Regions from separate parts of the Homo sapiens genome. Here all the other regions are linked to region 2. Evidence: fine-mapped expression QTL. A gene starts in region 2. Each other region holds a variant in brackets. All regions are shown on one strand. Distances are between the middles of the regions. Region 1 overlaps DNAJC6 (DnaJ heat shock protein family (Hsp40) member C6). Region 2 holds the start of DNAJC6 (DnaJ heat shock protein family (Hsp40) member C6). Region 3 overlaps DNAJC6-AS1 (DNAJC6 antisense RNA 1).

The links. PIP is the estimated chance that this variant, and not a neighbour inherited with it, causes the effect. A credible set is the group of variants that fine-mapping cannot tell apart.
Region 1: its variant is the best candidate, but not a certain one, in a credible set for the expression of DNAJC6 in fibroblasts (GTEx, PIP 0.51).
Region 3: its variant is the best candidate, but not a certain one, in a credible set for the expression of DNAJC6 in whole blood (INTERVAL, PIP 0.83).

The regions. Positions count from the first base shown.
Region 1 is chr1:65,395,528-65,403,713 of GRCh38, forward strand. It overlaps DNAJC6 (DnaJ heat shock protein family (Hsp40) member C6), which reads left to right. Exons shown (of 19, transcript NM_001256864.2): 14 at 3,286-3,354; 15 at 6,234-6,353. Among named protein-coding and RNA genes, the nearest start is that of LEPR, 21 kb to the right of the region's middle. The variant C/T (reference allele first, on the strand shown) is at 4,730.
Region 2 is chr1:65,304,557-65,312,742 of GRCh38, forward strand. It overlaps DNAJC6 (DnaJ heat shock protein family (Hsp40) member C6), which reads left to right and starts at 4,987. Exons shown (of 19, transcript NM_001256864.2): 1 at 4,987-5,382. The coding sequence starts at 5,190. It overlaps DNAJC6-AS1 (DNAJC6 antisense RNA 1), which reads right to left and starts at 4,678. Exons shown (of 3, transcript XR_007066155.1): 1 at 3,939-4,678; 2 at 1,877-2,029. It overlaps LOC112268227 (a long non-coding RNA gene), which reads left to right and starts at 6,688. Exons shown (of 2, transcript XR_002958317.2): 1 at 6,688-8,186.
Region 3 is chr1:65,273,248-65,281,433 of GRCh38, forward strand. It overlaps DNAJC6-AS1 (DNAJC6 antisense RNA 1), which reads right to left. Exons shown (of 3, transcript XR_007066155.1): 3 at 4,978-5,052. It also overlaps a transcript of DNAJC6 not described here. Among named protein-coding and RNA genes, the nearest start is that of DNAJC6-AS1, 32 kb to the right of the region's middle. The variant A/G (reference allele first, on the strand shown) is at 4,580.

The sequences.
Region 1 (8,186 bases), 91 kb after region 2:
CTACATGTGGCTAGTCTGATTTGAGATACACTCCAAGTATAAAATACATACCAGATTTCAAAACTTAGTACAAAAAGGGCATGTGAAACATCTCATCAATATTTTTATATTGATCATTTATTAACATAATATATTGAACATACTGGGTTAAATAAACTATATTATTAAAAATAATTTCAATAGTGTCTTTTTACTTTTTAAAATGTGACTGCTAGGAAATATAAAATTACATATGTGGCCCAAATTATATTTCTATGTTAGAGACTTAGGTTGTATAGAAAGAGTAATAATAATCACATCCATTTATAAAAGTGTGTCACTTAGGTAACATTGATTAAAACCGGAGGTCTGCAGTGAGGGATAAATAACTTTGAGCCAGAGAGTTGTAGCTCATTCCTGATGTCGAAGTCTATTGAACATTATTGGCCACAACCTAGAAGGTGACGTATTGTTGAAGGCATCCTGAGCTTGCTTGGAGAATGCAGTCCAGTCATCAGTTGACTTTGGGAAACCATGCCAATGCAAAAGGAAGATGACTTTTGCAACACTGGTGAAACTGAAACTTGACTAAAAAAGATTCCAGGAACAACTTTTGTGGTTCATTTCCAACTAGTCTTTAATCTCAAACTATTTGAAGTGCATCCTCAGGACAATATACAAGAAATTCCCCTCTTACCTCTGAGTCATGCTCACTTGAGAGAGTCTCCTGATTGGATGTTGACTACCTGTAGGAGAAAAGATGCAGGAATGTAGAGTAGAGTTGGTTTTCTCACTCATTTAAAATGTTAAGTCATGTCATTGCTCTGCTCAAAATGCCTCCCCATTTTACTCAGCATGAAAACCAAAGTCCTTGAAATGGCCTGTGTAGCCTCTGTATGCTCTAGCATCTCAGTGCCCGTGACCTCATTTCCCATTCTTTCCCACTTTACTCTCTGCATTCCAGCTGTACTGGCCTCTTTGCTGTTGCACTGGCTGTTTCCTCTGCCTCATACTCTTCCCCAGGCATCTGCATGGCTAAGTCCTTCACCTCCTTCAAGTGTTTGCTCAAATGTCACCTTCTCAGTGGAGTCTACTCTGATTCCTCCGTTTCAAATTGCAACTCGTCTCCCTGCCCTACTCTACATTCCCCTTTCTGTTGTGCTTAGTAACTTCCAGTATATGCAGTAATTAACTTATGTGTTACATTTTTTTGTCATCTCTCTCTCTCTATTAGAACATGAATTCCACAAAGGCAGGGAATTTTGTTTTGTTCATTAATGCATCCATAGTGCCTAAAAGAATTACCGGCACATGGTAGCTGCTATCTATCTTTCCAATATTAAATATAAAATGAATTAACTCATTTTTCCCATCAAAGTTTCTTTGATGCACAGTGATAGTGTCATAAGGCTATATGTTTTCCTGATTTTAATACTTTGAAATTATTGTTTTAATAAGAGTACTACCCTTTGTGTCCCATGGACGTGGGTGTTCATACTTGGCAGCTTGGCAGTTTTGGATCCAGTTTTCTGTTTCTGATGAGCTGATTAGAACATGGTGTTTATAACCCAGTTTAGGCCAGTTAGTACTCCTTTGTTTTGTGGTTACATTTCTCATTTTGGTCTGTATTGTACTAGCGAGTGGAAAGAATTTTCTCCTCTCCTTGTTGGGAAAGCAATGATCATTTCACTGTTACTGAATCAACTCCCCGTCTTCACATAGGACAGAATATAGGTGACACTCAGATGTCTGCTTTGGGAGGTCAGACATCCTCAGGGTACTTCCCCCGGGTTTCTGCAAGGCGTCGCCAATCTCTCATGAAAATAAAAAAAATACTGCCTTTGGGCTCAACAAATATTTATTGAACATCTATTCTGAAGAGAATAATCACTTGGGACATGATGTTGGAAGAACAAATAAATAATCATAATAAAAGGCAAAATAGAGACTAAAATATTAGGTAATTACCTTTTTGAAAAAATATATTCCTGTTTCTCTAACAGACCTTAAGTTTCTTGAGGATAGATAATGCATCTTTCAGTCTCTGTCCCCTGATGTGGTGCCTTGCATGTGGTAGGTAGTCATAAGGGTTTGTGGGTTTGATTAGCAACAGGGTTGAAGTTCTGATACCTACTTCTGCGTCTTAATTGGATGTAAGACTAGGATCAGAGCTTAAAGGAAATCAGATAGAACGTACTAGCAAAACCGTCTAACTTCCACCTCAGTGGAATGGGTTACTGTGTAAAAATAGAAGGGATAAATAGAAAAGAAAGAATTATTATTGCTGATAATGGCATATCCTTTTTAACTTAATGATGGGAAGGTACTAGATGACTTGGTTGGTACTAAGTAAACAAAACAAGGAAATAAAAGGTTTGGAATGCTAATCTTGATGCCTTCTGGTGGTGATGGGGTGTGTGTGTGCGTGTGTGTGTGTTTTAAATCCCAGTTGCAATGTCAGTTTAGTATTTGCATTTTAATAATTGATTTGTGTGGGCAAAACCTAGAGGTGCCTCAGAAAGAAATTCTTCATCATGGCATCCTGTTTCCTATATAGATTTTATAGATGTGTAAAAAACTTACTACGCACATGTATTCCTCTAGTACACCTGATTCCTTTTAGCCAAATATTTCTTTTAAATTATATGTTTGGAACTTTGAGGGGGGGTCAGAATGATTTATTTTGAAGCTGTAATGAGTTTATTTTGAGTACCATAGACACATCCCTGACAACCAGCATAGTGATGATGTATAGCCAGTGCCCAGTACATGTTCTGCATGACTCATTATTCTCAACTCATGTCACAGCAGAGGAGAAAACAAAATGTCAGTTTTGAGTGGATTATGCTTCTATACTTAATGCTTAGCAAAGGTAAACTGAGCTTAAGGTGTTTTCCCCCTTTTCTTATTGCACACTGACTCTGTGTTAAATTTAGAGGTGGGACACACACACATAAGATAGTTCTTTCCTGACTTCGAGGGACTGACAATTGAATGGAGACAGACACATGCTCAATGATAACTCAAAGCGTGTGGATATGGAGGTAAAACCAAAGTGAGACAAAGAAGGAGCAGAGACAAATAATATGTCGTTTCTGTCAAGCCTCATGTGAACAACCAGAGGTGAAGGCAGAACATATTGAATGTTGCAGAGTGTGGCAAGAACTCAGAAGGAGGAGTGGATATCTTGGGATCTTGCTGGGGCCATGCAGGCTTCAGGGATGGAATGGCATTATCCTGTGTGAACTCAGAAAAGTGGGTTCTGAGCTCTCTTGTTCTCATTCTTTTTCTTTTCCCCATTTGCAGCTTCTAGTACGCCTGCTGTGAACATTCAGCCAGATGTTTCTGGAGGTTGGGACTGGCATGCTAAACCAGGTAAAAGCAGGTTATTTTCTGTACACATTTATATAATTGCAAAAGCATAATCCTTACCCAAGATGAAGTGAGTACTCACAGAGTATTGTGGCCTACCTGTGTAATTTGTGTCACTTTTTCCTAAAGATTCATATTCTAGAAGAGCTTTTCCCAATGCACTTGATGACATGATAGTGCTACTTATCATACACCATTTAACTTTTCTAAATTTCATTTGCTGAATGTCTTATCTTGACAATAGAATCAGACGGATATAAATATATATCAAACTCTATCACTTAGAAACTCTTGGGTTTTTTTGGCAAGTCTGAGCCTCAGTTTTCTTATCTGAACAATGGGGATAATAATTTTGGTCCCACATAGTTGTGTAAGTTTAAATAAAAAAAACTTATATAAGAATTTCTGGCACAGTGTAGATGCTGACAAATGTGAATATTCTTCCTTCTTTACAAAGTACTTACTTCAGGGTGGGATTTGTCTGTCATCAACAAGGTCTCCTCCTCATGACCACTATGGCATTTATGGAGCTGTCTTGTGTGACTGCTCCTGACATTGAGCAAGTTAAGTGCACGCGTGCACATACAAACACATACACAATGGGCTTATCACAACAACTTTCTGAAGCAGTTGCTGTTTCCTTTTTTTATTGTAGCAACCCCTTCCCCACAACGTAACATTTACCCTGCCAATAATTTCCAAGTATACAATACAGTATTATCAGCTACATGCACTTTGTTGTGCAACAGATCCCCAGAACGAACCCACCTCCCCACTGACCTTCTCACATAACTGAAACTCTACACTCACTAAATAACTCCCTACCTCTGCCTCCACCAGCCCCTGGCCACCACCCTTCTACATGAGTTTGACTACTTTATATACCTCCCATAAGTAGAATCATACAGCATTTGACTTTTGTGGCTGGCTTATTTCACTTAGTATAATATCCTCAAGGTTCATCTGTGTTGTAACATGTGACAGGATTTCCTTCTGTTTTTAATTTAAAAATTTTTTTTGGCTGGGGCGTGGTGGCTCACGCTTATAATCCCAGCACTTTGGGAGGCTGATGTGGGAGGATCCCTTGAGGCCAGGAGTTCATGACCAGTCCGGGCAACATGGCAAAACCCCATCTCTACAAAAATACAAAAGTTAGCCAGGTATGGTGGTGTGTGCCTGTAGTCCCAGCTACTTGGGAGGCTGAGATGGGAGAATTACTTAGGCCCAGGAGGTTGAGGCTGCAGTGAGCCGAGATCACACCACTGCACTCCAGCCTCGGTGACAGAGTGAGAAACCTGTCTCAAAAAAAGATTTTTCTTTAAATTGACAGATAAAATTGTATGTATTTGTCGTGTACAATATGATGTTTTGAAGTACA[C/T]ATACACTGTGATATGGTTAAATGTAGCTAATTAACAAATGCATTTCCTCACATGGTTATCATTTTTGTGGTGAGAACATTTAACATCCATTCTCTTTGGATTTTTCAAGAATGTAGTAGATCATCATTAACTAGAGTCACTATGCTGTACAATGGATCTCTTGACTTATTCCTCCTTTCTAGCTGTAATAATATATCCTTTAACCAATGCCTCCTCATCCCTGCCCTACCTCCAACCACCCCAGCACCTGGTAACCACCATTCTACTCTTTATTTCTATGAGACCAACTTTTTTAGCTTCCACATGTGAATGAGAACATGCAGTATTTGTCTTTCTGTGCCTGGCTTATTTCACGTAACATAATGCTCTCTAGGTTTATCCATGTCATCTCAAATGATAGGAATTCTTCCTTTTTATGGCTCAATAGTATTCTATTGTGTATATACACCATATTTTATTTATCCATTCATCCATTAATGGACACTTAGGTTGATTCCATATCTTGGCTGTTGTGAATAGTGCTGCAATAAGCATGGGAGTGCAGATATCTCTTTGACATACTGACTTGATTTCCTTTGGATATATACCCAGTAGCAGGATTGATAAATCATATGGCAGTTCTATTTTTAATATTTTAAGGAATCTCCAAATTGTTTCCCATAATGGCTGTACTAATTTACATTCCCACCAACTGTGTCCTTTTTTCTCTACATCCTTGCCAACATGTTTTTTGTTTTTTTTAATAGCAATTCTGACAGGAGTGAGGTGATATGTCATTTTGGTTTTGATTTGCATTTCTATGATGATTAGTGTTGTTAGGATTTTTTTATACATCTGTTGGTTTTATACGTCTGTTGGTTTTCTTCTGGTATTCATCTGTATGTTTTCTTCTGGTAATTCCATAGTTTTGGGTCTTACATTTAAATCTTTAATGGATTTTGAGCTGATTTTTTTATATGGTGAGAGATAAGAGTCTTTTTACCCTGTTGCCTTCTTATTCTGTTGATTGTTACCTTCCCTGAACAGCAGTTTTTAGCTTGACAATTGTCCCATTTGTTTTTCTTTTGTTGCCTGTGATGTTGGTTTCATATTATTTCTCTTTTTTAAAACTAATGGTAAAATGCTGAAGCTCAAAGATGTTAAGCAAGATTCCCACGGTCACTCAGGAATTGGCAAAGCCAGAATCCAGATCCAGACCTAACTTCGAATCTTATAGGAAAGAGTGAAGTCAGGTGACATGAGGACCTGGAAATAAAACAAACACTGGAAATAATAGTTCACACTTGTGGCCTGGAAACAGCATTTGTCTTTTCTGTGGTCTGTCCTTGTTCAAGGCCACCATTCACCCAGGTCAGGGAAACAGGGTCTAGCAACTTCTTAGACATTTTCAAACCCTGTCCTAATTTGCCTAGGAGACAAATAAACAGTAACTCTGGAATTCTGAATTTCACAATTCAGCCTCAAACAACTAACTCATTTTCAATGACCTTATTTCCTTTTCAGGAGGCTTTGGAATGGGAAGCAAGTCAGCTGCCACCAGCCCAACCGGATCCTCGCATGGTACTCCCACCCATCAAAGCAAACCCCAGACTCTGGATCCTTTTGCCGACCTTGGGACACTAGGTACAAACTCAGAAGATCAAGATACAAATAACATTTATTTATAGCTATAAAGCCTCAAATCTCAGTCTTTGGTGTTACAGCAAGCTGGTATTGTCACCTGGAACCTCAAATAGTGTGTATTCTTAAGCTATCCTCTGAAACCTGAGATTGGCTTTTTAAAAAAGGAAAGCGATAATCAGATGTGGGGTTAGAAATCATCTTTATTGATTCATTTCTCCAGTGCCTAATTCTGGATGTGTAGCATGAATAAAGTTAGAGCTTTCAGGGGCTCATGGCAACAGAGTTTGGCTGCGCAAAAGTAATGCGTAGGGAAACAGTATGAGACAGGGCTGGTCAGATGGATTTGTGCCACATGATGCCAACCTTGCAGAACACTAACTGTGATGCGGTGATGTTACCTGTGAGATCTTCACACCGTTCCCCTTCTCTCCATTAACTGTGGTGCTCTCCGGTCAATTTGTAAAATTCTATACAGAAAATAGACTCAAGTATCGTATTTCCAGAATATTTTCACCATATGTTAATAGATGTTACAGGATAAGTGTTCTGAGAGCAGGTGAGATTGGGAAGCACTGGTTTCAGTGGATTTTGATTACCACTAAGAGGGACACAGTATCCAGAGTTCTCAAACTGATTTCACCAAGGAGCCTGTTTTCAAGGAGGGGTTCACTGGACTACTATGTTCTGAAACATTTTCTTCCTCCTTTTTCCTTCCTCCTCTAGGGCAGTGCAGATTTGTTAAATAAGGGTGGGGTAGCCCTGACACAAAGGTTTATCTTGGCTATATTGATAGTCTGTGATCTCAGAAAGCCCTACTGAGGCATTTAGAGCCAGATGGAGGGAATGTGAGCCTGGCTACCGTTGTTGTCTGTAACTAGTGTCAGCATCTTTATCTTCCATTCTGTACTATTTAGATGTTTTTCCCTTTTAAGAACTCTCAAAATTATTTTATGCAGTCATTTTCTTCTCCACCTTTCTTTGTATCTTACTGAAAATTTCAAATTTTAAAGTAATATTATATCAGATGAAATTTTACTTCAATAAAATCTCATTTATTATTTATTTTTAATGCATTTAATGCATTGATTCATCCAACAAGTATTTAAGGCACTTTTGTGCCTTCTAGGTGCTAGGACTGTTTTAGTAAAAAAAATAACCAAACAAAACAAAACTCCTGCCTTAATAAAACTTACATTATAGAAGGGGAATCAAATAATAAATTAACAAATATATAATGTCAAATAATGAAAACAATAAAAATAACAGTTAATAGTTATTGGGGCCTTACTATGTGCCAGGCACTACTTAAAGTGTTTTACATATATCATTTCATTTAATCTTCCTCATAATCTTTTGAAGTAGTGACTGTTATAATCCTCGTTTTACAGATGAGGAAACAGGGACACAACAGGTTAAGTAACATGCACAAATCACAAGCTTTCAACACCAAGAAGTCTAGCTCTGGAGCTTGCACTCATAAAAGGTTTAGAGGTTGATGTAGCTGAGTGTGGGAAGGGGTATCAGTTCAGTTCATCCAGTCAATGGTTTTCTACCCTTGAGCATTAATTCCCTCATTTCACAGGTATTTTTGAGTACTTATTATGTGGTAGGCATTCAGGATGTAATAAAGAATCAAAGCTGATGATATTCCTGTTCTTTGAAACTTGCACTACAGTGGGAGGAAGAAACTTTAATCAAATGTAAAATATCCGCTACTGTAGGGGCTACACAAGATGGAGCATTTTTTAAAAAGCTCCCCAGGTAATTCTAATGCACAATCAAGGTTGAGAACTACTGCTTTGCTTTTAATGAGGACTGCAGTGGTCTCTGGAT
Region 2 (8,186 bases):
AGAGAATCATGTAATTCCACATCTTCGATTTTACTGCTGAGAGAAGGAGAATGGATCAAGGCCACCCTGCTGATTAAGAGCAGAGTCAGGAGAGGATTCTCGGTCTATTTTGCTTTCTTCTGGACTGTGGCCTAAAGATGTGTCTTTTGGCATCTCTCTTGGGGGTATTTCTCCTTAAGGTTTTGCCACTACACTGCAGGTCTCAAACTCAAATGCCTGCAAGGGCTAACTGGTAATAGGAATGAGTGGAGGAGGCTGAGTATTCTACATTGGGAAGTAGTAGTGAACTATGGTCCTCAGACTGGAGCCTATATACCCTCTGTAAAGGCATCTAAACTAAAATGTTTTTCATTTTAAGAAGTACAGGACCGACAAAACACATCTGGGAGTCAGAGATGGCTTGATGTTCCCCAGTTGAAGTGCCTTGCACTATGTATATCTATAGGCCTTATTCAATAAGGAGATAATCTGGATTATGGCCCTCAGGCACATTGCCAAAGTAAGTTTCAATACTGTGCATTGATTTATGTTTGTTAAAACAGAAAATTGAAGAGACGCATTTTAGAAACCTGATCATAATATATTTTGTAACAGAGAGAACAGAGTAGAAGCTCTGGCTTCATTTACTGTCTGCTTAGCCAAAACTCTTTGTGGTCCAATTAGCCAAATGAATTCAGATGTCACAGTGTATAGGACATTCATAATTGGGAACACTAGGACCTCTTAGTACCAGAGATTGTCCCATAACATAGACATTCAAAAACATTTATAATCAGGACACACAGTGAGAAATACATTTATATCATTACTGAGCAGAAACATACACACACTCATACATATCACACAAACCCAAAACAATATTTTAAGAAACAATATCTTACTGCGTTCCAAACTCTGATGTTTTCCAACCTATTTCATTTTTATGAAAATACTTTATAATTTACTCATCGGCTACAGCATATAGTTTAAATCACTGGACTAGGTAATGCCATGACATTTTTGTTTATTCATTAATTCAGTAGATATTTACTCAATATCTAATGAGAGCGAGGTGCTCTTTGGAGTGTCATGGGGGACACAAACATGAACAAAACATGGATTTTTGCCCTCAAAGAGTCCAAATCCAATAGGAAATACATACACGTGAATATTTAAAAACTCAGGGCAAAACAATCAGTTCACATTTGACAAACTGCTTTTATGTTATCATAGTCATAATGATAACAAATCTCTTAGGTAAGCTGGGCAGATTTAAACTTAATTTTACAGATGGGAAGTTGCATTTTTGAAAAAGTGACATTTTAAAAAGAAGTGGAATGATAGTAATAATAGATAGCATATGTTAAGCACTTATTATATGTTAGGAACTAATTTACTTCTTACTATAACCTTATTATGATGGCATTACTATAATCCTCACTTTACAGAGGAGAAAAATGAGGCAGAGAGGTTAAGTAACTTGCCCAAAGTCATAGAGCCAGGAGTCATTGGAACTAAGAATCAATCATAGGCAACTTCAATTTTTTTTTTTTTTTTTTTGAGACAGAGTCTCGCTTTGTTGGCTCACTGCAAGCTCCACCTCCTGGGTTCAAGCGATTCTCCTGCCTCAGCCTCCTGAGTAGCTGGGACTACAGGTGCCTGCCACCACGCCTGGTTATTTTTTTGGATTTTTAGTAGATACAGGGTTTCACCGTGTTAGCCAGGATGGTCTCAATCTCCTGACCTCGTGATCCGCCCACCTCAGCCTCCCAAAGTGCCAGGACCACAGGTGTGAGCCACCACACCTGGCTGGCAACTTCAATTTTAATCAATGTATTATATTCTCTGGAAATGAAAATCACAGATCAAAATCCTACATAGGTCATGGCATACATACCTTGATCTCTTAGCCCACCCCAAAAGTGATGTGGCATCTGCTGTGACAGGATAGCATTTGGAATGAGGTGTGTATGAAGGGGATGGGGTGGAATAGAGCCTGGTTCCTCAGTATTCCTCAGTGTCACTAATCTTCATCAAGTTAATAAAGCACCTGAAGGCAGCAAGAGAAAAGACAAAGGGAATGATTGCTGTCCCCAGAAGAGGGCATCTTATCCTTTGCCGTTGTCTCATGTATGATGTAGTATTTTTGAGATAAGTTATGAAGTAGTCTTGAGTTTGGAAAACCAAGAGTTAGGCTGTAAATGTTCACCTTGTGTTTGACCAGTGCCACCTCCCTTAAGCCCAAATTCTCATTCAAAGTTACAAAGACAATTTTCCATTAGGATATCCCTGGAAAAAATAATATTTAGCCTTTATTGAGCTTTTCCCATTTGAAAAACTAAGACTGCCAGGCGCTGAGCTTAAAGCTGCACCCAAGACAGACCAATAATGGTAATAGAGAACAATTGTTAAGTACTACTCTCTCTCTCAATCTGTTTCTCTCTCTCTCTCTCTCTCTCTCTCTCTCTCTCTCTCTCTCTCTCTATATATATATATATATATATATGTTAGGTACTAATCTAATTCTTCTATATAATGATGGTACTCATATTATGCTTGTTTTATAGAGTAGAACAGTGAGATATTCATTGATAAGTATATGAATTTGATCTTTAGCACAGTAAAGAAAATTTTAATGTTGAAATTGGTGCATATCCAAATTTAGGCCCAAGCCCTAGTTTTTAGGCTGTTGTAAATTAACCTAGTTATTGTATTTTCCTGCCTTAATATGCTTCTTATATCTTCAATTTTATAGGATTATTAATAGTTATCCTGATTGACTTTATTTATATTAAGTATAAAGATAAAATTCTTATAGCCCATTCAGATTTTTCTTTACACTTGCAAACTCCAGAGATAGATATTGAAAAATACAAAGGCATATGTCTCATCTATAATTTCTTTCAGCAATATGTCTGCAAGTTGAGCAAAAATAACTGAAAGTGCTCTTTTTGAAAATAATAATTTTCACTTTTCAAAAATGATCCTGTATTTATTTATTTATTTTTTGAGACAGGGTCTCAGTCTGTCACTGAGGCTGGTTCTAAATTCTATTAATCCAATGATTATAGTCCAGCATTTGTCAGGGCACATGATGAACACTAGGTATTTACTGTCCCTGTGTGTCTGTAATGAATTAAAAGAAAAAGTACAGAGAAAGATTATTTAAGATGTTATGGGAAAAGATTTACTAGACTTCACAGAATTATTACTTTAGTCAAGTAACTAAAATAATTCAATCTGACAGATTTGGAAAATTGAAAGTATAAAAATTTGTTTTAAAATTTTTATTGCAGTTTTTCCTGCCACCATTCAGATTGTTTGATCTTGTTATAAATGAGCATTAACTCTGATTTGCAATTCAGGTCACACCATACCTCATCAAAGAATGCAGTTGGGAAAGCAACTGGCCAGGAAGTTTAGGTTTCCCCAGAAGGACTGGAAGGATTTAGAAAACATTTCTTTGGACTTCTTCTGGTTGATGCTCTTCCTACAAGAATCTGTGTTTGGGTGATCCTTGTACAGGAAAATGTCTCTTAGTCCAATTTATTTTATGTAGAACTGTGTAGAGCTAGAGCTTCCCGGAAACTTTCTGAGACCCAAATCATCTGGACTGAAGTCTCTTAGATGCTATTGTTTGATTTTGTGTCCTTAGGTGATTGATATAAGGACAGCAAGAGAAAACCATGTAAGATGAGAAGAAAGCAAAGCTGGCTTTGTGTATGGGCTCAAGTACATTTTACATGCACGTACTTTTTTCCTGTTTTGGTGAGGAAACTCTGTCAAATGACTCTTGACGGGCGCCTCACTTAGTCCCTCCAAGTTTTAGTAGAGAAAATGATAATTTTTAACCAAGACTTACTTGATCTTGACCTAAGATGATGAGAATGAGCAATCCTTCTGAAATCTTATTATTTTAGGTGAAAATAAACATTCGATAATTACATTTTAAGACTTACCAGAGTTTATCCAGGTTTTGTTCAGATCCAGAACTTATACAATGTCGGAGTCTTCTTTTAAGAATACACGATGACAGATACAAAATTAGGTACACAGCTTAATTAACTTCATGATAAATTCTCTTCTGATTATGAGTTACTGCTTTCTTTGGCCAGAATTGTGAAAGAAAAATAAGGCGTGAGGCTAGAGGATGGGGAAAAAAAATCCTTGTCTATCTTGCTTCCCAAGCAGGCCTTCAAGCTAGCTAACTGAAACAGTCTTTTCTCCAGGTCCTAAGGTAAATGGTGGCGGATCTGAAAATGCGTCGGACTTAACCTTGCCCTTCTCCCCAGTTTATTCGCTCAACAAAGAGTTCTAAACAGTCACATCTGCTCTCTAGGCAGAACGGACGCTGCCTCCTAGTATTAGAATACCCAACTCTTTGATATCTCCCTTAGGGATCATCCCTATTCTGGAGAATGTGCAAAATATTGCTCTTCCTTTATATCCTAGCATAGATATATTCTGGCACTTAACATGCATTCTTTTTCTGTTGAATTGAGTTACAAGTCAGTTCTCTAGGACGGTTACCGTCCTGGTGGCTTTGGCGGAATCTTCCGGTGAAAATAGGCTAAGTTGCATGAAATGGGTGTGTCTGGATTTTACCACAAGACCCCTGGTCCTCAAAGCTTCGCAGGCCGAGATACCTCGCCCCTTTCTTCTCTGTCACACGCGTGCGAACACACCCTCCCAACCCACGTCGTAGTAGTCCCCTCCCCCGACCACCCCGCCCCGTTTCCCTTCAACCCCCCTCCTCACGAACCTCCCCTCCCTTCCTACCTCCCTTTCCTTCCCTCCCCGCGGGCCAGCGGCTTTGGCGCTGCCCTGCTGCGCGGCGGGGCGACGCGGCGACACCTATAGGATTGCTTCCGGGCACTCCTCAGCCAGGAGGTGCTGGCCTGGGGCCCGGAGCTCGGCAGGGCCGGGCGGCTCCGCGGCGTTGGCCCAGAGGACGCGCGCCCCCGCCCGGCCGCGTCTCCTTCCCTCCCTCCCTCCTCCCGGCGCCCCGAGCCGAGCTCAGCCCAGGGCGGCGGCTTCGCCTCGCCCGGCGAAGCTTCTCTCCGGTGGCCGCTCCTTCTTTTCCCTCCTCTTTGCGTCATGTCGGGCACTTAATTTTTTTTTTTTTTTAATTCCTTCTTCAGCCCTTTCCACCTTCCATCTCCCTTTTCGCTTCCCAGGTTGATTATTTTCTCTTTTCTCCGGGCTTGCCCATGAGCCTCCTCGGGAGCTACCGGAAAAAGACCAGCAACGATGGTTATGAATCTTTGCAGCTGGTGGACAGTAACGGGGACTTAAGTGCGGGAAGCGGCGGGGTTGGCGGCAAGCAGAGAGTGAACGCCGGGGCAGCGGCGCGGAGTCCCGCCCGACAGCCTCCGGACCGCGCCAGCACCATGGACAGCTCAGGTAGCGCTGCCCGAGGGGAGTGCAGCGCTGAGCCCCGCGCGGCCTCCGGAGCCTCCCAGTCGCCCGGCCCGAGGCCCCCCCGTGGTCCCCCAGCCCCGGTTTGCGAGAGAGCCGGGCTGGAGGCGAAGGCTTCTAATACCACCTGGGTGTCGAGTCTCTAATTTCTCTCATCCAGGGAGCTACGAAACGTTAGATCAGTCCTGAGGCCCAGAGACTGTAGCGAGCTCCTCCTAATCTCTCTAGACTGCTGAATACGGCAGCTGGGGGCGGGGAGGGGGAGGGAAGGAGGAGGGGAGGGGTGGAGAAGAGAGGGGAGCGGGTGGGGCGAAGAACGGCTTGGGAGGAGGGCTGGGAGAGGCAGCTGCTTTCACTGCCCAGCTGGATGAGGGGGAGAGGTGAAGGAGCATGTGCGTTGATTGTTTTTGCAGCATGCAGACGGTATTTATTCCAATTGTTATTCTTGCAATGCTGATGCTATTTGCAATTCTGTAAAGCTCTGCCACATCTTAACTCAGCCGTCTGCTAGGGTTAATGTTACCTTTCTCCTGCAGTTTTTAACCTGGGATCTAGAGCTCTTTTACACAGCTTTTACTGTTTGCACAATGAAATTTATTTCATGTGTTGGCTTTGATCTTGTTTGTCCTTTTGCTTGAGTGTACAGATTTCATAAACCTTTACATGTAGGGACAAGGAAATTCCTCTAAACTTTGTATCGGGGCTTGCAACTGTCTTTTATAAAAGGTTTGGCAAGTTAGAGTCCTCTCTTGGAACTGCTGTTGGCATTTGCGATTTCAATAGCAAAACAGTCATTTAATATATCCATGTTGGACTAGGAGTATTATTATAGCTATTTGCTTACTTCTGCAGGGAACCAGGTTCGGAGAATTGTTTACAGAGATATTTATAATTGAAGTCCTCAGTGGTTGGTTCTACACTGGTAACTTTAATACTGGACAACTGAGGATTCCAGAGGAAAGATTCATATGGGGTCGTTTGAACAGTAATGAAATCAAACTGAATTTAAATGCCCTGCTTTGCAAACAAATGCTTGTTTATTTTAATTGTGTAATGGCTGTCCTTGGGCTATTATTTTCTATTTTCCTTGTCCCAAAGTGGGATGAAATATTGTCCACAGATGCTCAAATGTCCTGGGCTGAAAACAAATTCTACTCATTGAAGCTCTTATTGAAGTTAACCAAGATATTGATGGGACATTCTCTTAGACCATTTTAAATAAAACTAAAATGATCCCCAAGGGATTGATGGTTTCAGGACTGTTTTTTTTTTTTTTTTTTTTTTTTTTTGAGGCGGAGTCTCACTCTGTTGCCCGGGCTGGAGTGCAGGGATGCGAACTCGGCGGACTGCAAACTCCGTTTCCCGGGTTCAAGCGATTCTCCTGCCTCAGCCTCCTGAGTAGCTGGGATTACAGGCACCTGTCACCATGCCCGGCTAATTTTTGTACTTTTAGTAGAGACGGGGTTTTGCCATGTTGGCCGGGCTGGTCTTGAACTCCTGACCTCAGGTGATCTGCCTGCCTCGGCCTCCCAAAGTGCTGGGATTACAGGCATGAGCCACCGCGCCCAGGCAGGACTTTTTTATTGATGTTGTATGTGGTTATTCAATGTATGTTTTTTCAAATCTGTGATATATCAAAGTGTAATCCATCTTTTGACTGGATGTAATCTCCTTTAAATCTTAAAAAGATTCATGTTCTCTGAATGATGCCACCATAATAATGTTTACATGTAGTGAGCATGTAAACAATTGAAATGAAAACAAACATATTCCAAATGAGTGTGAAGGAGCCTCACTTCAGGAAAATGAAAGAAATATGAAATACATATGTTTTCCTTTTTCATAGGGATTATTATTTTAAGAGTTGAAATTGGTTTTTGAAATATGTTACATTGTAGAATAAGTTCAACATACATTTTCTGAGCCCAGCTATGTGCCAAGCACTGTGAGGGAACACAGTAGTGAATGAGATCCTTCTGGCCTCTAGGGGACTCTCAGTGGGGGCAGTAACTATAACACAGAGCAGCCTATGGTAAGTCCTGGATTTTTGAGGATTGTCTTTTTCACTAAATCAGACTTTTTTAATAGGTGGAGAGAAGAATAATGGATTGCTTTAATAATCTGTTGTGATGGGAAAGTGTTTCATTAAGAATATTGTTATCTCTAAAGTGCTATTGCCAGGAGTTGATTCTTAAACTTGATCAAAGTGGTGTTGTGTGAAGAGGCTGCAGGGATTCCTTTTCTCCTCCCCTTATCCATCATTCACTCCTATATTTTATTAGGGGAATATTGTGGCTTTGTTGTAGAAGTACAGGGTATCTTACAATGATTTTGATGCATATTTTCAACTGAGAATGATTTGTTTGGTTTGAATGAAGGATTGGACTCTGAGAGTAGGATTCTTTTACTAGTACAACTATATGTCTTGCCTAATTATAGTTCTTTCTTCTAAGATCCTCAAAGTGTGGCCTGTGCAGTGTAAATATATCCATTTGTTTAGTATATCTAATTAAGTTCATGGATCATTTCTAAAGTGGCAGTAATCTGCCCATTTATTCAACTGATTGTACTGTGACATGCTGGATAGGATCAGTGGTTTATGGGACTTTTGCTCTGATAGAAATATTAATGAGTGGAAAAAATATGTTGACATCTCGCTACATGATTTAAAGCTTAGTCTTAATAATACCTTAAACTTGTAAGACTGTTTATAATAGAACACTTGGACAATTCTCTTATTTCATTTCCCCAGAATTTTATTAAATAGGTTGGGGAAGCAGCATGTGTCT
Region 3 (8,186 bases), 31 kb before region 2:
TCTTTGATTTTCAGCTTTTCTTTTAAAAAATATTTTCATTTAAGGCTACACATTAATATCCTTTAAGCCGGCCAGGCGTGGTGGCTCACGCCTGTAATCCCAGCACTTTTGGAGGCCGAGGCAGGTGGATCACAAGGTCAGGAGTTTGAGACCAGCTTGGCCAATGTGGTGAAACCCCGTCTCTACTAAAAAATTACAAGTATTAGTTGAGCACGGTGGTATGTGCCTGTGATCCCAGCTACTCGGGAGGCTGAGGCAGAATTGCTTGAACCCGGGAGGCGGAGGTTGCAGTGAGCCGAGATCACACCACTGCACTCCAGCCTGGATGACACAGCAAGACTCTGTCTCAATGAAAAAAAAAATCCCTTAAGCTATATATATAATATCCTTTAAGCATAGCTTTTGTGTACACCTGCAAGTATTGTTATATTTTCATTATTTAGTTTAAAATATTTTATACTTTTCTTTTTGATTTTTTTGACCCATAAGGTAGTGTAACAACATACTTTTTAATTTTTAAACAGTTGGGGAGTTTCTAGTTCTCTTTTTGCCATTGATTTCTAGCTTGCTTTCACTGTAGTCAGAGAATATATTTTGGATGACTTGGAAATGTTTTAGACTTGCTTTGTGACCCTTCATATGATCAATTTTTATATTTATATGTTGTACTTAAAAGAATGTGCATACTAAGATAGTTTGGTTCCATGTTCTATATATGTTAATTATTTCAATTTGTTAATCCTGAGGTGCGGATCTTCTGTATCCTCACTGATTTTTTTCTCATTCTGTTGGTTCCCAAGAGAGGGCAAACTCTTCCATTATAATTTTAGATTTGTCTATTTTTCCTTTTATATTTGCCAATTTTTGCTTTACTTTGTGGCTCTGTTATTAGGTGCATACCATATACAGTTATAGTTGTTATATCTTCATTATGAAATGTCTTTCCTTATCTTGAGCAATACTCCCTTATAATCTACCTTTTTGATATTAATGTAGCTATACCAACTTTCTTTGTGTTAATAGATACATGGTAGATCTTTTCCCATTTGTATACTTTTTCTTTTTTATTATTATTATATATTTTTTTGAGATGGAGTCTTGCTCTGTCATCCAGGCTGGAGTGCAGTGGTGTGATCTTGGCTCACTGCATCCTCCGCCTCCTGGGTTCAAGCGATTCTCCTGCCTCAGCCTCCCAAGTAGCTGGGACTACAGGCGTGTGCCACCACACTCAGCTAATTTTTATATTTTTAGTAGAGACAGGGTTTTGCCATGTTGGCCAGGCTGGTCTCGAACTCCTGACCTCAGGTGATCCACTCACCTTGGCCTCCCAAAGTGCTGGGATTACAGGCATGAGCCACTGTGCCCAGCCTATACTTTACTTTTTTCTATACCCATATATGTAATCTGTATCTTTTAGAAGCAGCCATAAGTGAATTTTTAAAAATCTAGTCTGACAATATGGTCTTTAGTTTGAATATTTAAACCATTTAATATAATTATTGATGTGTTAAGTGCTATAGCTACCATGTTACTCCTTGTTTCTTATTTGTGTCCCATCTGTTTTATATACCACTTTCTTTTGGATTAATCAAGCATTATTTTTAACTTTCCAACATATTCTTTACACATTTGTTTTCATTTTACTTTTCTTTGTGTGTATGTGCGTGTGTGTGCCTGCGTGCGTGTGCAAGTGATTACCCCAGTGCTTCTTATATTTAATCATGTTTCAGACAATGTTAGGCGCTTAGAAGACTTTAACTCCATTTACCCTATCTTCTCCCTCACCTCACTTTCTGCCTTTTGTATTATTATTGTATTTTGTTTTAATTATACATTTATTAAAGCCCCATAGGACACTGTAATGATTGTTTTATGGAATAAATATTCATTTAAATTTACCCACATATTTACCCTATTCATTGCTTTTCATTTCTTTCGGATTTTTTGTGTATTCCCTCTGGGATCTTTTCCTTTTGCATGAAAAAAACTCCCTTTAGGATTTCTTGTAGTGCATATATGCTAGAAACAAATATTCTCAGTTTTTATGATCTGGAAATGAGTTGATTTTGTCTTTGCTTTTGAAGGACAATTTTACTAGGTGTATAGAATTATGGGGAAGCAGGTGTTCCCCCAGCACTTTAAAACATGTTATCCCATTGTCTTCTGGTTTTCATCCTTTCTTGGAAAAGCAGGCTGTCAGTCAGTCTTATGTTGTTATTTGGTGTTGCATCTTTTTTCTTCGGCTGTTGTTAAGACTTTTCTCAATTGATTTGGTTTTCAACACTTGTCCCAGGTGTGGTTTTCTTTGTATTTATCCTGCTTGGGGTTTTCAGTCCTTCTTGAATCTGTGCGGCTTGAGGTTTTTTGTAATTCTCATAATTCCCTGCCATTATCTCTCCAAACAGTGTTTTGTTCCTTTCTCTCTTTCTGGGACTCCGGGTACCTTTATGTTAGAACTTTTTACCCTGTCCCATATATTCCTTCATTTTCTGTATACTTAGCCCTTTTCTTTCTTTTTTAGTTTTGTTATTTTTTTGCTGGCCTATCTTAGAGCTTACTGGTTCTCTCTGCTATGTTTAACTTGTTGTTACAGAACCATTAATTTCTTAATTTTGTTTTGTATTTTTCAGTTCTAGAGTTACTATTAGATTCTTTTTTTTTTTTTTTGAGACAGAGTCTCCCTCTGTTGCCCAGGCTGCAGTGCGATCCTGGCTCACTGCAGCTTTCACCTCCTGGGTTCAAGCGATCTTCAGCCTCCTGAGTAGCTGGGATTACAGGCATGTACCACTATGCCTGGCTAATTTTTGTATTTTTAGTAGAGATGGGGTTTCGCCATGTTGGCCAGGCTGGTCTTGAACTCCTGGCCTGAAGTGATCCGCTCACCTTGACCTCCCAAAGTGCTGGGATTATAGGCGTGGGCCACCGCGCCCAGCCTCTATTAGATTCTTTACCAAAAGAGATTCTTCACCTTGTCATCTGTTTTCTCAAATACATACATCACAGTCATCTTAAAAAACTTTGCTCAGTAACTTCAATGTGTGGGCCACTTGTGAGTCTTTTTATCTCTTCTGTTTTTCTTCTTGGTTGTCTTTCTTCATATGCCTGGCAATTTTTTATTATATGTCCAGTATTGTGTATGAAGATGCTCTGGATGATGTCATCTACCTGTTGAGAGTATTTTTCCTACTCTTTGTCAGAAGTAGAACAGAGATCACTTCAATCAGGCACTCAGTCTAATTAAGGCTGTTTTGCAGACTTTTAAGGTTTAGTCTACTTCTGGTTCTCCTAATCCCAGGCCCCTAGGGAAACTGACTGAGAGTCTGAGATGTTTCTCACCACCCCTTCCCCTTGACAGACCCTAAACTCTAATTTTTGTCTCTCTAATACTGTGAACTTGCTGAAAACTCTACTCAGCAAAATGTTCATTGTGCTTTTCATTTGCTTTCTCGTTGGCTTCTTAGCCTCTGCTCTGGGCAGCTGAGTCAGGAATATCTGAAGGAGAAAACTCCTGTCAGGCTGTGAGTTACTCTAGGATATGCCTTTTCAGTCCTAAACTCCACTTTTTGTCTCTGCAGCCCTTGAAACTGTCTAAAATTCTGCAGGCTTCTCTGTGTCTTAACAGCTGCCCCTTGCCTGGCTTTTCAGCTTCTTACCCCATGCTAAGAATTGGCATATACCCTAAATAGGAAAATGGGCTTGCAGAAAGTCAGGCTCACCTCAGTGAGCCTCCCCTCTCTCCAAGATCTGGTTCCTCAAATCGTGGCTGATTAGTAGCTTTCCTATTACTTCACACAGATGTTTAAAAATTTTATCTGGCTTTTCTAATTTCCCTCATCAGAACCAGTCTGCTACAACCTACTCTATTAAAGCTGGAAGTTAAACACGTCTGTTTTTTTTTGTTTGTTTTAAGTGGATTATGTTAAAAAATAAAAATCACAGGCCAAAAACCAAGGTAACAATGTCATTTTAAACATGTAAATTTAATAAAGGATATATGTTGATTTTTAGTTACTCTTTCTTGCCTTATTAAAAGCTTGTCAGTACCTTTTTTCATATGTACTCTGAAATTCTTACAAATATATGTTGCTTTGTTCCAGAGAATATGTGTACTAAAAGACTATAATTTTTCTGAGTCTGGTTCTCCATTCAAATGTTTTAATACTTTTGTGATTTTATGATTTGTAATTGTCGACTCTCACCTCCCAATTCAACATGATCCTAAAATGTACAAAATAATTTGAATGATTGAGTTTCAAAAAGTTTTAGAAAACTTGATCTTGTAACTTTTATTCCAAAGCTTTGTTGAGGGGGAGAAGTACAGGCTTCTGCCTTTAAGGGTACTGCTTCACTTTTGGGGCAAAAAAGCAAGGGTTTTCAAAGGGGGACTTGACATGAATGGCATGCAGGGGAGGGGGTGAGCCAGTGGGGGTCTCAATGACTTGCTTTGGTGCTTTATCTACCAGGTGGTTGAGCTGGTGCCCTCGCGGGCAGAACTAGGTGGTAAGGTGGCCAGAGTCTTGAGATACTCTCCAAGTGGGAGTGAGTTTCATCATGGGCATACTTTAGGTTATAATTTGTT[A/G]TCTCTCGAGGCAGTCTCCTGGTCGAAGAGACGTCTGGCTCTGGAGCTTCTAAGTAAGCAAGAGCTTCCAAGTAAGCACACAGATAAGCTTGCCCTACAGGGAGTGTCTGGTGAAGGAAAGGTAAATGTTATAATTGCATTTCTAAAGAGCTAAGTAGGAAGTGGGGAACAAGGGAAAAGGAGGAAACAGAAAAGAAGAAAAAAGTATTTTTTAAAAAAGTAATTCTTTCTCTTAGAAAAAGGTGGGTACTTGGTTACAGTCTAAACCCTTTACCGTGGCTGAGTAGGTATTTTTTCAGCCTCTTTCCCAGGTTGCGCGCTGCGTTTAGTGCTGTCATTCTCATGTGCTTCATGTCACTGCCAATGTGTTCAGCCTCTCAAATGCAAGCTCCGTTCATTTACTCATTCATCTCATATGTTTTTGATCACTTATGTGCTCAGGTCTCCTTTTTCAAATCAATATTATGGCAATTCTAGTAAATGATCAGGGAAATTAAATAGGTCAATTCATGTGACATAGTTCTGAAAGGCAACAGAGTGATTGGTGGAATTGTGGAAATGTTTTTCACATTTCTCCAAATTTTCTTTTAAAATCAGACAAACAAACTGACACTTACTTTTCAGTCTTTTCAGATATGTTCCCCAACTCTGACTCTAGTACTTGAAAATGTACTAAGTAAGAGGGCTTTGGGATGCCAGAAATAGTCTGTTACTTAATCTGGCTGCTGGTTTTTAAACCAGTTTGTGAAAATTCCTGGAGCTCAGCACATGGTTTGTTCACGTTTCAGTATGTCTGTTATACTTTAATAAAGAAAATGAACTTTTTACTGATAGAGTAACAAAGAAAGTGCCAAAGAGAAAGAAAGCTTGAGAACCTCTGATCAAGTTCAGCCTCTTCATGTTATGGACGAGGGAATTGAAGCTTGGGAAGGAAAAATTACCTGGGGACTGGGGGAATGTCTCATAACCAGGACTTGTACTCAGGCCTTCTGACTCCTAGTTCATCTGACTTTCCTAACTCATTGATCAGGAAAGGGGTGGGGAAGAATCTGGCATGCGCTAACATTGGAGCTGGGCGACATTCTCAGAATCCCAGATGTATCCTGCGAGTCAGCACTTCACTCCCTACTCTTTCTGCCCTCCTCCATCCCCTTCCCCATGGCAGTTTAAAAACAGACACTTTTATTTCCTGCAAACCTGGAGATACTTGTTTCATCACCTAAGAATCATTTGACTGCATATGCTGAGAAAAAGGGAAATTCGTGCCTGTGAAATCTAACAAGAGCCCAGCACAAGGTATGTTTGATCCTCTTTTAAAGCCATTTTTAGTTTGGTGCTGTGTGGTTTAAATTTAGAATAACATTTCTACAACTTTGGGGGAGGGGCGGTGATGGTGGCGTGCAGAGATTGAACCCAGCTGTGACTCCTGCTGCTGTGAGATAAATGGGAAAATCTGGGAACCAGTGTTAAAAGGAGAGGGCTCTTTAGAGAGGTAGCTGCAGGGAAGGGGACGTGCCTTAATTGGGATGGGGGTGGAGGTAAGGCCAAGAAACAGTGGGAGCTGTCTCCTCCCCCTCTTGCCCTGTGGGATCTGACCTACTGAAAACAGAGTGAAGACTATTTCTGATCTGGTTTGGAAATCCAGAATTTAATATTAAAATACACGTTAAATATTTCAATAAATAAATATTAATATGTTAATATTAATGTTAAGTCAGAATGTTAAAATATACATCTAATATATATACACATACATGCACATGCATGCACACACACACAGCTTGGAATTGGTAGTGTCATCCTGGCTTCATTTTACATTCTCAAAGGCTAGATGTTGGGTTTCCAGAGTGCTGTTTCTTCTGCCTGAAATACATTTTCTCTCCTATTTGCCTGGCTCAGTTCTGCTCCTCTTTCCAGTAGTAGCTTCCTCTGACTCTAGGTCTCCTTCCCACTCGCTGCCTATAACAAGTTTCCAGAGCATCCTGTGTTTTCCCTTTTGTGTCACTTCCCGTATTTTTAATTATTAGATGAAATTTGGGCACGGCATATGTCCTTAATACATAGAGAAAAGAAGAGAAGACAAGGAGTCAGGGAAGATAAAAGAAAGCTACCCTTGGATCGCTTCTTTTAAACTTAGCAAGGTAGACAGGTTCCTTAACTTCTCTGAGCCTCAGTTTCCTCACTTTCAAAGTGAAAATAGTAATACCTAATAAGGTTGTTGTGAGATTAGAACCTAATAAGGTTGTTGCGAGATTAGAAATAATATATTAAAGGCACCTAGCATAATATCTAACACATAGTAGGTACTCAGTGTAACATAATTTAAAATGTATATATACTCTTAAAAGGAAATTATGAAAATTCAGAAAAGCACAGAGAAAGCCTGTGAAAACATTCATTGTCCCGTCTCTTAGAGATAATTGCTGTTAAATTGAGTGGATTCTTTTTCTGTGTGTATCTTTATGTATCTATATAATGTACTGAGTTCAGATTATTCATATTTTTTTTTCACTTAATATGACGGCCCAAACACTCTCCACATTTTTAGTGTCTGTAAAATACTGCCATGTTATATTTTGTAATAATAACTGGGCCTTCAGTTATTAAAAGAAGATTTAGAAACTGACACTTGATCCATTCAAACTCTACTTTTACCAGGACAATATGTTTACGTGTTAGGAGGATAATTCATATCCCTGGGTAAACAAATGATGTAGTGGACAAGGTGCAAAAGGACTCCTCCCTCCATTCCTTCTTCTCTCTCTCTTTCAGCCTTTCTTGCTTATTTCCATGGATAGGAGGGTTATTTTGATTTTTAAAGTAATGAGGCAACTAGGTGAAATGAAGAAATCCATTGGCCTGGAAGTTAGGAGGTCAGAAATTTTCCTTCTTACAGTCCAGTCACTGACTCACTTTAAGGCAGTCTTTTCATTTTTTGGTCTAATTTTTTTCATTTGTAAACATGGGAGAAGTGGGTTTTATTAGAGAGATTTTCAGACTGGGCTTTTCTGAGTGAGTGTTAGAGTTCTGTGGAGATGTTTTTTCATATTAGGTAGATTTCCTCTCAAGGGAAAATTACATGGCTAAAAAAAATTAAGTTTCACGTTTCAAATTTTATTTTATTTTTTAGACAGGGTCATGCTCTATCACCCAGGCTGGAGTGCAGTGGTGTAATCTTGGCTCACTGCAACCTCTGCCTCCTGGGTTCAAGCAGTTCTTGTGCCTCAGCCTTCTGGGTAGGTGGGTGCTCGCCATTACACTGGCTAATTTTTGTATTTTTAGTAGAGACGGGCTTTCACCATGTTGGCCAGGCTGGTCTCGAACTCCTGACCTCAAGTGATGTGCCCACCTTGGCCTCCCAAAGTGACGGGATTACAAGCCTTAGCCACTGTGCCCGGCTCAAGTTTCAAATTTTAAATGAAATCTCAGTGGACTTTTTCCTTTTTTAAAATTGAGATATAATTCACATACCATAAAATTCACCTTTTCAAAGTGTACAACTCAGTGGTTTTTAGTATATTCATAAGGTTGTACAGTCATCACTACTATCTAATTCCATAACGCTTTCATGGAAACCATTAATAGTCGCTCCCCTTTTCCTCCTCCC